Regions from separate parts of the Homo sapiens genome. Here region 1 is linked to region 2. Evidence: fine-mapped expression QTL. A gene starts in region 2. The other region holds a variant in brackets. All regions are shown on one strand. Distances are from middle to middle.

The links.
Region 1: its variant is fine-mapped to the expression of PAPSS1 in whole blood (INTERVAL, PIP above 0.99).

Annotation. Positions count from the first base shown.
Region 1 is chr4:107,690,519-107,695,518 of GRCh38, reverse strand. It overlaps PAPSS1 (3'-phosphoadenosine 5'-phosphosulfate synthase 1), which reads left to right. Exons shown (of 12, transcript NM_005443.5): 3 at 1,513-1,748. Among named protein-coding and RNA genes, the nearest start is that of PAPSS1, 27 kb to the left of the region's middle. The variant C/T (reference allele first, on the strand shown) is at 2,348.
Region 2 is chr4:107,718,224-107,723,734 of GRCh38, reverse strand. PAPSS1 (3'-phosphoadenosine 5'-phosphosulfate synthase 1) reads left to right here and starts at 3,501. Exons shown (of 12, transcript NM_005443.5): 1 at 3,501-3,615. The coding sequence starts at 3,556. RefSeq lists enhancers at 2,049-2,198, 4,189-4,248 and a silencer at 3,309-3,558.

The DNA.
Region 1 (5,000 bases), 28 kb after region 2:
GGAAGTTCTGGCCAGGGCGATCAGGCAAGAAAAAGAAATAAAGGGTGTTCAAATAGAAAGAAAGGAAGTCAAATTGTCCCTGTTTGCAGATAACATGATTCTATGTTTAGAAAGCCCCATAGTCTCAGCCCCAAAACTCCTTAAGCTGATAAATAATTTCAGCAAAGTCTCAGGATACAAAATCAATGTGCAAAAATCAAGCATTCTTCTACACCAACAATAGACAAGCAGAGAGCCAAATCATGAATAAACTCCCATTCACAATTGCTACAAAGAGAGTAAAATACCTGGGAATACAACTTGCAAGGGACGTGAAGGACCTCTTCAAGGAGAACTACAAACCACTGCTGAAGGAAATAATAGAGGACACAAACAAATGGAAAAACATTCCAGCCTCATGGATAGGAAGAATCAGTATCGTGAAAATGGCCATACTGCCCAAAGTAATCTATGTATTCAATGCTATTCCCATCAGACTACCATTTGATATTCTTACAGAATTAGAAAAAAACTACTTTAAATTTCATATGGAACCAAAAAAAAGCCCTCTCTTCTATTTTTTTTTTTATTCCAGTTAGCCTTCTGTACTACCATGAATTCTTTCAAGAGCATTGGTACATTAGACTTTAGTATTTTATCTCTTGTTTTAGAACTATCTTGGTTATGACACTCGCCAAGTTGGCAAGTAATAGTGCATAAATGTACTCTTTCCTTCTCTTTGTTTACTGAGTAAATACTGTTGGTATAGGAAGGTGAGTTGAAATGAGGGTGTTCTATTAAAATTAATTATATTATAAATTGGACTCCCAGATAATTGTATCAAGGTGGTTTGTGAGTGCTGATGATCTAGGAAAATGGAGGTACCTTTGTAACATTTCTTTCTTTTGTCCTTTCTTTTTCTTCCCTCACCAGAAATAATTTGGGCATATGACTTTGTTTTAAAATTTGGCATGCAGCTTTAGAAAAGTGGTAACGAGAGGACAAAGTGAATTCCCAACCATGTCTGCTAATAAAATTAGTTAAGCCTTTCTGAAGTTTATCAGTGATTTCTGATACGTTTGCTCATAGATATTTCATTAAAACAAACACTTATTATGTTTAAACTGTAGGTGTTTTCCTAGGCAAGAGGTAAATCTTAAAGAGAAATATTAGATAAGAACATTACTGAGAGATTGCTTTGCATAATGAATGTATTTAATCCTGTGATTGCAATTTTTTATATCTCTTGAGCCAGGAGTTTGAGACCAGCTGGCGCAACATATTGAGAATTCTGTCTCTACAAATAATAAAATAAGTTGGATGTGGTGGCATGTGCCTGTTGTCCTAGCTATTTGGAAGGCTGAGGCATGATCTCTTGAGTCCAGGAGTTTGAGGCTGCAGTGAGCTATGCAGCCTCTGCACTCCAGCCTGGGTGGCAGAGCAAGACTCTTGTTTCTGGGAAAAAAAAAGTATTACTACATAGTTATCCTTCTAACTTTACACATGGAATCTGTTTGGACTGTTTAATTTTAGGCTTGTCTGGAGCGGGAAAGACTACTGTGAGCATGGCCTTGGAGGAGTACCTGGTTTGTCATGGTATTCCATGCTACACTCTGGATGGTGACAATATTCGTCAAGGTCTCAATAAAAATCTTGGCTTTAGTCCTGAAGACAGAGAAGAGAATGTTCGACGCATCGCAGAAGTTGCTAAACTGTTTGCAGATGCTGGCTTAGTGTGCATCACAAGTTTCATATCACCTTACACTCAGGTATGTGGTTTTTGTGCCATTGCCTTTCTGCTTACATTTATTGAGAATATGGTATCAGGCAAAGCACATACTTTAAACATTGATATGTGCTTTGAGGCTAACTCTACTCCTCCCCAGCTACCATCTCTTTGTTCCTGTAACATAGGATTAAAATAACCTAAAACATTTCTATGCTGTGACTTTCTAAGTAAATCTGGTTTTGATAAAACCTGCTTTTAAAAAAGCCGTGAAGTATAACACAGTCATTGAATTTAAGCCAATGGCCAAATTATTTCAGGCTCAACTTTTCAACTTAATAAAACTATAGTGAATACTTGACAGATGTCAAACTCCGGAGAAAATCTAACTTTCTTAACATGTGCCCTACCATGGCTTCTTTGCTCAGAATTCGTTGTTCTTAGCTTGCATCATAGTTCCTCTTATTTTAGAGACTGCAGCAACAACAAACCATGTTTGTGTATTTCTCTGAAAAAATTATGTCATTTCTTATCTCAGGATTTTTGTTTCCTCCCTGCCTGGAAAGCACTCTTCTCCCTCCTGTTCCTGTTTTCACAGTGTCAGCTGACTTCCAGTTATAGATGGAGACTTAGGTTAGGTAC[C/T]TTAACACATTATTTTATTTTCTTCAACTTTTATTTTAAGATCAGGGCTACATGTGCAGGTTTGTTAAATTGGTAAACGTGTGCCATGGTGATTTGCTACACAGATCATCCCATCACCTAGGTATTAAGCCCAGCATCCATTAGCTATTCTTCCTGATGTTCTCCCTCCCCAACCACAACAGTCATCAGTGTGTGTTGTTTCCCCCCATGTGTCCGTGTGTTCTCATTATTCAGCTCCCACTTATAAGTGAGAACATATAGTGTTTGATTTTCTGTTTCTGTGTTAGTTTGCTGAGGTTAGTGGCTTCCAACTCCATCCATGTCCCTGCAAAGGACATGATATCATTCCTTTTTTAGCTACATAGTATTCCATGATATATATATATATATATACACACCGTGTTTTCTTTATCCAGTCTATCGTTGATGGGCATTTAGGTTGATTCTATGTCTTTGCTACTGTGAATAGTGTTGCAGTGAACATACTCATGCATGTATCTTTGTAATAGAGTGACTTATACTCATTTGGGTATATACTCAGTACTGGGATTGCTGGGTCAAATGGTATTTCTGCCTCAAGATCTTTGAGGATTCACTGCACTGTCTTCCACAATGGTTGAACTAACTTACATTCTCACCTACAATGTAAAAGCATTTCTTTTTCTCCACGAGCTCACCAGCATCTATTGTTTCCTGATTTTCTAATAACAGCCATTCTGACGAGTGTGAGATGGTATCTCATTGTGGTTTTCGTTTGCATTTATCTAATGATCAGTGATGTTGAGCTTTTTTTCATGTTTGTTGGCTGCATGTATGTCTTCTTAAGAGAAGTGTCTGTTCATACCCTTTGCCCACTTTTTAATGTTTTTTTCTTGTAAATTTGCTTAAGTTCCTTGTTGATCCCATTCTGTAGGTTGTCTGTTCACTGTGATGATAGTTTCTTTTTCTGTGCAGAAGCTCTTTAGTTTAATTAGATCCCATTTGTCAAGTTTTGCTTTTATTGCAATTACTTTTGATGTTTTTGTCATGAAATCTTTTGCCTGTGCCTGTGTCCTGAATGGTATTACCTAGATTTTCGTCTAGGGTTTTTATAGTTTTGAGTTTCACATTTAAGCCTTTAATCCATCTTGAGTTAATTTTTGCCTATGGTGTAAGGAAGGGGTCCAGTTTCAATCTTCTGCATATGGCAAGCCAGTTCTAGCACCATTTATTAAATAGAGAATCCTTTCCCACTGCTTGTTTTTGTCAGGTTTGTCAAAGATAAGATGGTTGCAGGTATGCATATGTTATTTTTAAAAACCCAATTCATTGACTGTTGATATTGATAGTAGCTGTAGTGGTAATAATATTAACATTTATTGAACACTTAACTGTGTTCTGGTAACTGCTAGAGTGCTTTTATGTGAATTAACTCAAGTAATTCTTGTCTCCTAGTGGGGACACAAGGAAACAAAGGTGTGCATTGCCCAAGGTCACACACTATACTTGTAGAAGAGCACAGGTTTGCATCCAGACAGTGCGTCTCCTGGGCTTAGATGCTATGCTGCCTCCAAACCCCACTGGCTCCTTGACAGCTGGGACCGTGTCTTATTTGCCTTTGTAATCTTGATGCCAAGCCCGGCTCTTGGACCATATTATATGATTAGTGTTTGTTGAACAATAGCATACTCCCTTGGGAAGCCCTGATATCAGTGAATAAGCGAGTTAGTATAGAGGTGAGAGGCAGGGTCTTTGGAGTTGGAAACAAAGGGGCTGAAATCTCAGCTCTGCCAGTTATTGCTGCTGTGGCCTTGTCCAGCACACTTAACCTCCTGCAGTTCAAGTAATGCCTACAACATAGGGTTGCTCTGAAGATTACGTAAGTCATGTGTTTAAAGCCTCAGCACAGTGCCTGGCATGTAATAACTATTCAATAAATGGAATAAATTATATTAGCACAATTCTAGTACTGTATCATAAATTTTGATGGTTACTTGGACTTTTTTTTTTTTTAAACAAGATTTGACCTGTAAGAATTATGGATAAGTGTTAGATTGAGTATTATTTACACAGGTTCACTTAATTGAACCATGGCAGGAGTCCTAAAACATTCTGTAAAAACCATTTCTTGAAACCCTTGGGTCATTGCCAATATATCAGTTTAAAGTGTATAAATAATAGGAGCATAATAAGAGTTAGAGTTCCTGAATCCTTGGATATACACAATTTTCATAAAAATATGATATTGGCATTCTTATACCTTCTGGTGGGAATCTTGCAGCTCTCGGAAAAGGGGGAGGTCTATAATACCTGTTATGGAGAGCTATCAGCCGACACCTGGGTATCTAAGAGTGTGTGCTGATCTGCTTTGTGGCCCCCTTGTTTGTATAGTGTGGAGCAAAATCTTTGTTGACCTCATCTATAAAAGCACTGATAATGAGGTTTGGACTATGTTTAGGGCATCTGAAAATCCATGAAAATATTTGGATTGAAACATGCAATACAGGACATGTGTATTTTTCTGTATAGTCATGATTATATTTGTTCATTCAAGAGAAGTTTATTGGGAATTTCCATGTCAACCACTGAACTGAGCATATTGGTTCTGAAAATTAACCTGATACTTCCTATTCTGAAGGAGTTGGTAGTCTGGTGGGAATGCGGAGATGTGAAG
Region 2 (5,511 bases):
CAATGGGAAACTACAACAGCCCAATCCAGGCAGGACTACAAATGGCCCAGACCCTTCAGGAATGAAGGTTTGGGTCACTCCACCAGGAAAAAAAAACCACCACCTGTTCAGGTACTTGCTGAAGGCAAAGGGAATACAGAATGGGTAGTAGAAAAAGGTAGTCATCAATACCAGCTATGAGCACATGACCAGCTGCAGAAACGAGGACTGTGATTGTCATGAGAATTTCCTCCTTCTTTTGTTAAAAACATGTTTGTGCATGCATACACTTGTACTAAGAAAATATCTTCATTTTATTTCCTTTTCCTTTATCATGTGATATGAGATTCACTGACTTCATATCAGCATTTAAGTATTGTTAACTTTATGTAATAGTATGTGAGTTGGGGACTGCATTTCCAGTTGTACAAAGGACAGTTCAGTTATGTTAGACATAATTATGACCTTATTATTGTCTTATTTGAAGATTATGAATGATCTCAGGAGATGTGTATGGGTTCAAGTTGTCAAGGGGTGGACTTGTGATGGTTAATACTGAGGGTCAACTTGATTGGATTGAAAGATGCAATATTGATCATTGTCAGGTTGTTACCCAAGGAGATTAACATTTGAGTCAGTGGGCTGGGGAAGGCAGATCCACCCTTAATTGAGTTGGCACCACCTAAACCGCTAACAGGGAATATAAAGCAGGCAGAAAAACGTGAAGAGGCAAGATAGGCCTAGCCTCCCAGCCTACATCTTTCTCTTGTGCTGGATGCTTCCTGCCCTTGAACATCGGACTCCAAGTTGTTCAGTTTTGGGACTTAGACTGGCTCTCCTTGCTCCTCAGCTTGCAGGCAGCCTATTGTAGGACCTTGTGATTGTGTAAGTTAATACTTAATAAACTCCCATTCATATGTATATATCCTATTAGTTCTGTCCCTCTAAGGGAACCCTGACTAATACAGAGGATCATTGTCTTTATCCATTATTTCAGTAGAAAATGAAAAGTGGTGATATTAAAATGATATCATTTCTTCTTTATTTATTAGTGGTACTTCTGTAAAGAGAAACTTCTCTTTATCAATTTTTTGGGTCCCAGACAGTCCAGGGAAAGCAGAGTAAATGCTTAATTCATCCCCTTTATTTACCAGTTTTCAAAATAATGAGTTGGTTTCCTAGCATTCTCTAAGAGTGACAATAATTTTTTTTAAAATCATCATCATTACAAACACCTAGATTTAAACATATTTGATATGTTTTAATATTTTGTAGTTCTAGTCCATTTAGTGCTTTAATTCTCCCATCTTTGACATGGAAAAATTTCTTTAAATTGGTTTCTGAGTCCTTTTGACATAATCCGAGTAGCTTTTGACAGTTTTTTGTTATGTTTCCTGTTTGATGTTTCTGGCTCATTTGCATGACCCATATCTGGAATCATGAATTTGGATGGACAGTATCAATGTAAACTTATGATATATTTTACCTTAAAAAAAGTCTTTTACTAGAAATAAGGTCAAACTCACAGCAGTGAGCACTCCTAGAGCCAGATCGTTATATCTAAATACCATTTCCCTCTAATAAGAACCAGAACTCAGAGCAATGGCTAACTTCAGATGTGGCCCTATTTTCTCATATGAAGCTTGAGATCTTCTTCCAAGCTCATTCCTGTTATTGGCAGAATTTGAAATTATATTGAAATTCAGTTCTATGTATGAACCCCAGATTGAAAATTCCCTAGAAAAAAAGCTGAAGGGAACCATTCACATTTTAAGTAGTCAAGTAACAAGATCAGATTTCTGTTTCAGAAATACCGCTCTGACAGCAGGTGCAAGAATGGGGTGTGTGGCGGGGATGTGGAGAGCGGCTGCACAGCTGGGAGGATGTCCAGTGAACGGGCTTAATGATAACTCAGGCTGGATATAGGGGAGGCCTAATTTAAGACAGTAGCAGTGGGGCAAATAGATGGAGGGCTGATTTGCTAGTCACTAACAGGCAGCAGCCTCAGGTCTTGGTGATGGGGGCTGATTTGCTAGTCACTAACAGGCAGCAGCAGCAGCCTCAGGTCTTGGTGATGGGGGCTAATTTGCTAGTCACTAACAGGCAGCAGTCTCAGGTCTTGGTGATGGGCGGGGTCAGGGGCGGAGGGCGGCTGTGTCACAGGGGGGCAGAGCTGCAAGCAACTCTTTTGGTGCCAGGGGCAAGCTGCGGAAAAGAGAACTCAGAGTTATGGGGGGTGTGGGGAAGATAACTCCTGGAGGAAACTCTGTCATGCCCCCAGCCCATCCTCCTACGAACTAGCCCTGGAATAATTAGGTGAATTTGAAAATGTCCTCCGTAGGCGGGAGTTCTATTCGGGGTTACCTGCGGCCTCCCCGGTCCTGGATTTCAGTCCTCTAGGTATTTCCTGAGTAGCTCTTAATAATACAGAAGCCCCTTTCCGGTGTAGGTCGGTAAGAAGCACTGCACAGAAATCTGATGCGAAGTGGGGTCTCCTAGCGGAGAGGGAGGCACCTTATAAGTAATCACTAATCCAGGTTGAGATATTAATTATTGATGTCAAGAAATCGGGCTTTTATTATATCTTTTTAAAAACTGTGTCTTGAGGCCAGGCGCTGTCGCTCACGCCTGGAATCCCAGCACTTTGGGAAGCTGAGGCGGGCGGATCATGAGGTCAGGAATTCGAGACCAGCCTGGCCAACATAGTGAAACCCCGTCTCTACTAAAAATACAAAAATTAGCCGGGCGTGGTGGCACACGCCTGTAGTCCCAGCTACTCGGGAGGCTGAGGCAGGAGAATCGCTTGAACCCGGGAGGCAGAGGTTGCGGTGAGCCGAGATCCTACTACTGCACTCCAGCCTGGGCGACAGAGCAAGACTCCGTCTCAAAAAAAGAAAAAAAATTGTGTCTTGAGTAGAATTTTAATGTGGAGAATGAGCTGTTCGGTAAATCAATTCTTCCCTTTGCAAAGCTGTAAAACATTTAAAACATTTGGCCAGGGTGACATGGGCACAGAAGGGGCAGACAGGAGGTCGGCAGCCAGGTCTGTGGAGGAGTAGCCACAGGTGCAAGAGGCCGCGTCAGCGTCCTCCCAATCAGCCTCTGCTGAGGGAGTGCCGCGCGCGGCGAGCCGCGCACTCCCCTTGCCTTTCTCCCGGCGGCTGGTACTCGCTCTTAGAGATCTGCGTTAGCTCAGAGCTAGGCTCGGTGCCGCAGAGGCACCTGAGGTTCCACGACTGCATTCCAGGCCCCGCCCCTTCATCGGGATCTGGAAGGAGGAGCGCCGTGCGCGCCCGCGCCGGCGCGAGCGCTGAAGCTCCGCCCCCAGCTTCTACCTCCGGTTCTATCCCGGCGTTTCGCCCTTCCCCACAGACCTCTGCCCCGGACCCATTTCCGAGGCGCGCCGCATGCGCCGCGCAACCCAGGCCACGAGCACGGGCGCGTGCTTAAGTCAGCGCGCGCCCGCTCCGACGCGAGGAGGCCCCGCCCTCCAGCCCCGCCCCGCTCGCTGGCCTGCCCTCCTCTTGCTACCCTCCCGGCGCAGAGAACCCCGGCTGCTCAGCGCGCTCCGCGGTCATGGAGATCCCCGGGAGCCTGTGCAAGAAAGTCAAACTGAGCAATAACGCGCAGAACTGGGTAAGCTGGGGACGAAGGCGAGACGGCGAGGAGCGGAGGGGCTGTGGGAGCAGCTCGTTCCGGAGCCGCCGCCTCTCTCCCGCCTCCTCCGCATCCATCCTTCCAGGAGCGCGGAGGTGGGTTCCGGGGCTGCGGCGCCTCCCGGCTGGGGCCGTGGGTGGTTGCGAGGCAGAGGGGCGCGGCGCAGGGTGGGGATCTCGCCCTAGCTTGGCGCAGCGTGCGGTCCGAGCCACCGTTCGTGGGAAGAACGCCCCCCCTCCCCAGCGCCTCCGCTCAGGTAAGACCCCCAGGAAAATCCTTCACCCGTGAACTGGCGCTTGCTGAAACCTCCGGGTGCTGAAACCTGCGGCTGCAGAAACAGGAGCTTCCTGCATACCTTGGAGTGGCCTGAAGATGTGCAGAGAAGGCGGAGGCGGGCGCCTTCGACGCGTTCTTGGTTTTTCTTGGCTCTGCCAGTGCGGTTGGCCCAGGTTTGGGTCCATCTCCGTGTCTTTCCATTTCTGAGTTTCAGTGTGAAAGGAGAGTACCCAACAATGTGGTCATTCATGAGTTGAGACTGCCCTGAACTGAGGTTCTTTGTGTCTCTGTGTTAAATCGGAATGTTTAACAAGTAGGAGTTTGGAAGACTCCATTCCTGGTGACAGTCAGGTATGGGACCAGTCCTTTATAACGTTTAGTAATGACTGCCAGTTGACTTTGTAAAGTGCTGTGTCCTCATAACGTTGCTTACTTCCTTAATTTCTCTGTGATGAGAAAGAGCCTTATCTTCCTTTGTAAGTGTGCAGCAGGGAAGGGCCCATCTTTGGAGTCTGGAAAGGCACTGGTTTAAGTTTAGACGGAAACGTTATTTCACAGTCCAATGGAATAATAAGGTTTAAATGCAATGTCTCCCAAAACGTTACTTGCCCTAGATGAATCAAAGAAAAAAAAAACAAGCAATTTCAGGCAAATGTTCTTTGGAAGTCATTAATTTACCACATCTGTTGTTATTGTTATCATGAGTTGTTTACTGATTCCTCTCTCCTTTTATTTAACTCTATAGATGGTAAGGAGGGGAAGGAGATTTAAAAGATGAATTAGAACAGTGGAAAGAGCGCTGGACTCCTGGCCTGGTCTCTCATCCCAGCTTTGCCATTTACTAGCTGTGTGATCTTGAGGAGAGTCACTTTACTTTTTCGAACCTCAGTTGACTTAAGGGTATAATAGTATGTACTTCACGGGATTGTTTTGATGAACAAAGAAGACAGATCATGAATTTGAATGTGCGGTGAAACCACTGCCTTGAAACTCAGACTCAGTTTCGCTTCTCTTACCTTAAGGTGTTTCACGGTTAGGGAAATAAGGTTGGCTTACTTGGGGTATTTACAGATGATTTCTGTTACATTGTCCATTTATGTACTCATTTATTTATTAACATTTGCCACATGGTGCGTATTCTATGTAGAGACTTGTGCTAGACATGGTGGTGAAAAATGTGGGACTTACTGCTTGCCTTCTGGTAGTTCATGGTTTGTGTTGGGGTTGTGACATTTGCCAAGTGGTGAATATGTCTTTGTGGTCCAGAGTGAGTGGCGTAAGACAGAAGTTTTATTGCAATTTAGAGGAGAGATTAGTTTCGCCTGGGCGTTTTGGGAGGGTTTATGGAGGATTTCAGATTTCTGAGTCAGAGGGGAACTGCATGGATAAGTGTTGGGAATAAAAATTACTATTTTTTTTACTCCAGAAACATTGACGAAACTTGTTTGACTGCCCTGGAGAGTTTTTGTTGGGAAGTGGAGGTAAGGTTCAATAGGGAGGCTGGGGCTCCGTGATGCTCTTGTGTTTGGCTGCAGAGAAGACTTGATTCTATGGGGGATTTTTGATGGGGCTAGAATTTTAAATTTTCTGATCCTTGTA